Homo sapiens: one gene and its partner. The protein of the gene in region 1 interacts with the protein of each later gene in a biochemical or structural test. Each region holds a gene or a part of one and is shown in the gene's direction. Other genes may lie near its edges.

Region 1 (3,500 bases):
GCCCTCCTCACTCTGGGAAGGGAAGCCGTCCCCGCCCCCCACCCCCTCTCCAGGAGCCAGCTAGCTGCACCCCAAGACCCCCACCTCGGGCTCAGCCCACAGCTCCCAGGAGCCAGCCCTGTGGGCAGGGAGTGGCTGGGCCAGGTTTCCCTTCTACTGACTCACCATGACCTTGAGTAAGTCACTTCCCCTCTGGGGTGTCACTTCCCCATACACAGTATAAGGGGTTGATTTAGTTGGATTGAACTAAAGGTGAGGGAGTGGCTCAGGGTGTCTCCAGGTGGGCTGACCCCTCAGTTGGGCCCCCATGCTCAGCAGAGGTGGCCCACAGTGGTGGAGCCTTAGGGTCAGAGACACTTCCTGGCTCTGCCTCTTACTAGCTGGGTGACTTGAGGCAAGTTGTTTAACCTCTCTGTGTACATTTGCAAGTGCAAAATGGGTAAAATCCCAGATTACTCCACAAGGTTGTTGGAAGATTCAGTGTCAATATGTAGCATAGTTGGTGCTCAATAAACTGAAGCAAGTCTTCTTATCTAGCGAGTGAGGAAGGGGCCGCCGAGCTCTCTTAGCCTTCTGACCTCCTACGCAAGCAAGAGGTCATGTTGAGCCCAGCTCGCCTTTCTTTTCCCAGTGCTGTCAAGCTCTGTGCCTGGCTGCCCTGCCCTCTGACATCTCTCTGAAACCTCTTGCCTCCCCTCTCCCTGCCTCAGCTCAGTCTGTGCACTGACCCACCTGAGGAGCCTCCTGGGGCCACTGGCAGCCTGGACCCCCCCAGATCCCCCCCACCCAGTGAAATTGTCTTCCAGCACTGCCTCACAAAAGCCTACTTGATGCAGTGCCAGGCCTCTTGCCAGATGGCTGGGTGGTCCCTTAGGCTTGGACCCAGTCAAGCTGCCCTGCCTGTGTTGCTGGGGCTGGGCTAGAGGCCTGGAAGGGGTTTATCAGGGTCACCCTCTCAGGGCCTGGGAGATACCCAATCCCAGACATTAAAACTGCCAGTAGCCCCTCTACCTTCAAAGCCAAGTCCTGGTCCCTTCCCCTGGCATTCAAAGCCATCGTAAGTGAACTCTCACCCGCTAGGCAGCACACGCCATTCTCCTTTACCGAGGCCCACCGCTTCCTCAAAGTCATTCCTGATGGTCTCAGCTCATGCTGGTGGCAGCCATTTCTCCCAGCCTACTGTCTCTACTCATTGCCACAGGAACCAGGGACTCCCAGCTCAAGAGCCTGAAGGATTGGGGTCAGGGGAAATTGGCAGTCGAGGGCTTGGGAGTGACAGCCATGTATGGCCTACGAAGTCCCAGCTGTCAACTTAGGTCCCATTCAGGCAGTGTTCACAGGGAACCGGGAGATAACAGGGCCTGTTCCTGGCTCTCAAAGGGTCCCAGCAGACCCCTATAGATGGCCCCCGACAGGGTGCTGGGGGGTGAGAGGTCCATAAGAGCCCCCGGTGGTTTCGGGGAGGAAGCTGCCCCCTGCATGGGCCAGAGGGCATATCTGGTAGGTGGAGTGGCCTGGGCAGGAGGCCAGCAGGAGCCTCAAAAGGCAATGGTCCTCCTGAAACACTTGGGCTTTAGCCTGAGCGTGGCTGTTTGTGGACATCATAGCAATTTCTGGACTGTGGGGGAGGGTGGTGGCGGTGAATAGATAAGCATCGTGACTGGGGAAGCTCAGGTGAGCACCACCTGAGGGAGAGGGTCTGGCAGTGAATAAATAAGCAGTGTGACTGGGAAATTGTGAAGCTCAGGTGAGCGCCACCACCTCCTGGGTTGCTTTAGTGTCCAGCAGCTGCCTAGAACTATGTTGAATGAAGAGCTCTCTGGGTTCTGGAAGTGGGACAGCTTTGGGTGGGGCAGTGTTACCACCGTCAGCCTGGCTTGGGTCTGCAGGGTCCAGGGCCTCGGTCACTTTGCTTCTCTCTCCACAGCTCACTCCTGGGGGCAAAGCGGCGCAGGCCGGAGTGGCCGTGGGTGACTGGGTGCTGAGCATCGATGGCGAGAATGCGGGTAGCCTCACACACATCGAAGCTCAGAACAAGATCCGGGCCTGCGGGGAGCGCCTCAGCCTGGGCCTCAGCAGGTATGCGGGTGGACATGGATGGGTGCGCCCGCGCTGGCAGTGGGGATCCCTGCGGGCCCGGCCCGCTGTCACGCTTTCCTTCTCCTCCAGGGCCCAGCCGGTTCAGAGCAAACCGCAGAAGGTACGAGGCTGGCCGGGACATCCGGGCGGTGGGCGGTGTGGGCTTGGACGGCCAGGCCTGCTCGCCCTCCTGGCACATTCTCGGTACCCCAATCCCTGGCCGGGAGTGGAGGGCAGAAACCGGAGCTAAGGCGGGTCTAGGGCCCTGGAGTTGAGCCAGGGGCTGCTGCACGGTCCTGGCACCACGCATGTCCGCCTGTCTGTCCGCCTGTCTGTCCGCCTGCTGCCTCCCGCCGCCGGCGCTGCGTGCTCGCCCGCACTCGGTCAGCCCTCGGTCCTGCGTGGACTGAGATCGCCACTCCCAAATGGGCCCCTTGAAACCTGAGTCGTCCTCTCCCCGTAGCCTCCAAATAGATGTAGGGGGTGGGGTGGGGGTGGGGGGCTGGAGCTGCCGCTGTCCTCTGCTGCAGGCGCCCCACTTCCACCCAGGCCCCCACCTTACCCTGCCCGCCCGCCCTGCCCGGCTGTGTCTCTGCCCAGGCCTCCGCCCCCGCCGCGGACCCTCCGCGGTACACCTTTGCACCCAGCGTCTCCCTCAACAAGACGGCCCGGCCCTTTGGGGCGCCCCCGCCCGCTGACAGCGCCCCGCAGCAGAATGGGTACGTCGGCCCCTGCCCGCCCGCGCCCACGCCATCAGGCCCACTGTGGCCCCACGCCCGCTGCCCGCTGCTGCTCAGTCTGTGCTGCGCCCCAGCCCGGCGGAACCGTGCGGCAGCGCCCCCTGGCGGCCGGGGTGGGGCTGCAGGCACAGGGCCCCTCCCGAGGCTGTGGCGCCTTGCAGGGCACCGCCCTGGGGAGGGGTCTCTGAATGACGCCGCGCCCCCTGCTGGCGGCTGGGGGTTGGGTTGTGGTGTCGGGCCAGCTGAGCCCCAGACACTCAGTGCCGCCTTGTCCCCGGCTGTTCTGACCCCTCCCCGTCTTTCTTCCTCTCCTGTGTCTGTCCCTTTGTCCCTTTATCTGTCTGTCTGTCTTATTTCCTTCACAGGTGCAGACCCCTGACAAGTCAGTGAGCCCCCCTCTGCCTGTGCCTTTCTTCTTCCTTTTGGCACTCTGGGTGGCGGCCCCTCCCCACCCTGGCTGCCCTCCTCTCCACTTCGCCCTCCTGTCCTCTCACCTACCCGCCCAGCAGGGCTCCTGGCCTCACCCTTACCCACTCCCTCCCATCACTGTAACCCAAACCCACATGCACCAAATCCTGGGAGGGGCTGCCCCCACCGCCCACCCCCAGTGTGGGGTTCTGAGCCACACCCTCCCCACAGACAGCCGCTCCGACCGCTGGTCCCAGATGCCAGCAAGCAGCG
Region 2 (3,500 bases), on another chromosome or scaffold:
TTGTTTACTCTAATTCATCTTCCAAAGTCTTTTTTCTAAGCCACACATAATTTGCTTGAAACCCTAACATCGAGGAAAAAATTTTCAGGCTAGTGCTATTTGATATTTTTTTCTTAAAAAAGTCTTTGGTGCAAATTGAATGTGCAGACAAGGAAAATAATTTGACTTCCTGGTATACATTTTGAATTTCCAGCCTAGATGAAGGCCAATGAAGGCAAATAGTAAAGCTCTCACTTAAAAATAAATAAGTAAAGTGGATTTTAATAGCAGAACCTTCAAATATTTGGCAGGAATCAGAGGGAACCAGTTATATGAAGCCTTGGTTTACAATATATTATGTCTTTTGCCAGTGGAGTTTTTTTCTTAGGATAGAGAACAACCTGTCTGAGCAAACATCTTGTCTGGGAGAATCAGAATATTTAACTCCATTTATTCAATAGAAAGTGTCAGCTGAAGGTATCTGTATTTTGACTCCCTTGAAATTCACAGATACATTTGCTGGGTGTTTATACCATCTACCTAGGCACCTTTAGGCAAAACCTGGTATGAGAAAGGGGTCTTTGAGCCCCAAATCAAATGAAGTCAAGTTTTCCAGTAGGATATTTGTTCCGACTCCCTCTCCTGCCCTATTCCTTAAAGCAAACACCATTCCTTTGTACTCCTTGAAATTAGAGGCCTCACTAGTATTGTCAGGGTGGCCTGAAGGAGGATAATGCATTTCTGTATATTTAGACACAGTGCAGTTTTCTCTGAAATTGAAATTTTGCTTATGAGGGGGTCATTTGTATTGTGTCTCCCACCTTTTAAAATGCACTACACTTCTCCACAGTCTGGGGCGGGGGGAAAGAGGGACCAGATAATTTTCATACTAAATCAGTCAGCTGGATGCAACCTTTTTAATTAAATGGAGCTTAGACAGCCCTGAAGCTAATGAAAATCTCTAGTACAACATTACCCTTATCAGATTTTAATTTTACACATTGGAGTAGAGAAATGATGCAGCATAGGCAGGTTATGAAAAGAAAATCAGCATCACAGTATTGGAATAGCAATGCAAACAGCTGTAGGAAGGTGCCGTTCACAAGGATGCACACCATTCCTATCAGGAGGCCCCGTGGGCCCTTCCTGCACTCTGGCAGAGAGGAGAGATTTCTGAAGCTGTTTAAGTTTCTTTAAATTAATCGGCAGTCATCATTGGATTTGGAGCACAGTAGCCATAAGAATGTACACTGTGTAGTGCTCTCTCAGCATGGGGTTTTGCTTGCTAAATTCTGGTATCAGCGAATCGGAAATGCATACCAGACCCTTTTAAAATGTTAGCATCTTTAGTAATCTCTTTTATTTTTCTTTAATTGGCCCTATATACAATTCATAAATAATTCAAGTGTTTTCAACTCATGGAATATTAAATTTTTTAACCTGCCAAGGCAATTTGAGTTTAATTTATACACTAAAATATATGGACTAAGCACAAATTTTTTGCCTTTATTGTGGAAAACCTGATGTCGTTTGTGTTGCAGGGATAGGAAACTGATAGGAAGTTTAAGTAATTCTAGCTTCCACTTCTGACTCCATCGTCTACGTTTACTGAAAGTTGTTCACTGTCTTTCTTATCAAGCAGGTGTTTCCGTTATATTGCACATTAAAATCAGACTTGGATTTCCAAGAGGAAATAAATTTTGGCTCCTAAACATAATTAAATCATAGTAAAGAAGAAAAACAAACAAAAAATTATTATTGTGTTTACAATTCTCAAATTTTTGACTAGTGGAGTTTTACATAGTTTTACCCTTTCTCCACAAGAAAGTTCTGATTGTTTTTTCAAGATCTCTGATGCCTGAACAGTGTGTCTCTCAACACACTTCCCAAATTTCCAGATTGTGTTAGCAGTAAAGCATATACCACAGAGTTTTCAGGCCAGTGTGGAAATGAATATCTCAACTTGGGATAAGAGATTAGCTATGCCTTTCACTGATAAATAGCAGCATTAAAGAAGCTGACAGAAATGAGTTTTCAGTGAGGTTAGAAATTTTTCCCACTGAGGGTTTTCAGGAGACATAATTGGATTGAAGGAAACTGACGTTTTGGAAAGGAAAATGTGACCAGAGTCACTAGACTCGACACATTCAGTACCAGGAGGACCTTCCATTTGAGAGCTCCAGGGCAACCTGGAACCACTGTGGTCTGCTCTCTCGAACATCCTGAACAGAGTAAGAGGCTGCAATTAGAGAAAGAAGAAAGAAAAGTAACTTCTGTGGCCATATATCTCTTGAGACTGCAGTAGTGACGTCACCATGGAATGATACAAGAACCATAATATTTTAAATGTGTTGTTTTCTTATCCATAACAAGGGACTTAGACATACCCATAGGAAGAGGCGGTATGTCTGGTGGTTGAAGCGGGGACTTTAGGATCACGTGTCCAGAGCTTCACCTCTGACTCCACCACGTGGGGTCTTAAGCAAGTTACCCAACTTTTCTATACCTCAGTTGCTTCATCTGTAAAATGGGGGTCATAATAATACTTGCCTCAAAGGAATATTGTGAACATTGTCTGAGCTAATCCATGAAAAAGCACCTAGCACAGTGCCTAGTATATAATAAGTAATCAGTGAAAGTAGGCTACAATTATTGGCTTTATTAAATGAGAGAATGTCTATAAGTGCTCTTTGCAAAATGACAGGACATGCCAAAAATGTAACATCTTATTATTAAACTTTGGAAATACTTGCCTATCAAGTACACCACTGTAAAACAGAAAACATTTGGAGTGTACATTCAAAATAGGCAGCAGCTCTCTTCTCTGGCCTACATTATTTGTTCAACACCTTTTGCATTCATCATCCATGGCATACAGTTTTGTGCATTATCTTATATCATTTTTGTCTCTTAATTATTTTATATGTATGAAGATTTAATCCCCAGTAGTAATTCAAAGTCAAGGTAAATGGTATGACCTTTAACCTGCCTGTAGCAATTGGCACAGTCTGAGAAAGCAATAGCTGGTAAATAATATCTTCCTTATTGACTTATTAATTGTGCTGTACAGTCCTAACAAATGCCCAGTAATTTTCAAAGCTCTCAATGAAGAAGCGGGTCAAAAGGTGGGTGTAGAATCCCGAAGTGCATTCACCGTACCCTGGCTTCATTTGAAACACAGATGGTACTTTGTGAAAAGTACGCTAAAGTGTCGGTGGTTGTAAATTGGCCAAACACAGTAATAACTGCGTCTTGCTGAAATGTCTTCTTGTACACCCAAAGTAGAATGAGGATGGTGAGAGAGAATCCATTAGGGACATCTCCTGCAATAAATACTCTTTTGTCTCAAGGAAAATGCTGCTGCAGTGTTCACATGGACACTCTGGCTGATATTCCCGTTCATTCATGCATTTGTTTATTCATTCATTCATGTATTAGTCATTATATACCAGGCACTGTTCTAGTTGCTAGGATATATTTAGTGAGCAAGACAGGCAAAGTATATCCCTACTCTTATAGAA

What was found. The genes of interacting proteins can lie anywhere in the genome.
Region 2: the proteins of PDLIM7 (region 1) and GRIP1 interact in a test that uses a peptide from one of them, tested with the Homo sapiens proteins (one large-scale study listed by IntAct).

Annotation. Positions count from the first base shown.
Region 1 is NC_000005.10:177,491,105-177,494,604, reverse strand, and holds part of PDLIM7 (PDZ and LIM domain protein 7), read left to right. Parts: intron 1-1,927; coding exon 1,928-2,079; intron 2,080-2,169; coding exon 2,170-2,200; intron 2,201-2,679; coding exon 2,680-2,798; intron 2,799-3,184; coding exon of another isoform or gene 3,185-3,201; intron 3,202-3,458; coding exon 3,459-3,500. UniProt on the Homo sapiens protein: May function as a scaffold on which the coordinated assembly of proteins can occur. May play a role as an adapter that, via its PDZ domain, localizes LIM-binding proteins to actin filaments of both skeletal muscle and nonmuscle tissues.
Region 2 is NC_000012.12:66,459,077-66,462,576, reverse strand, and holds part of GRIP1 (glutamate receptor-interacting protein 1), read left to right. Parts: intron 1-3,500. UniProt on the Homo sapiens protein: May play a role as a localized scaffold for the assembly of a multiprotein signaling complex and as mediator of the trafficking of its binding partners at specific subcellular location in neurons.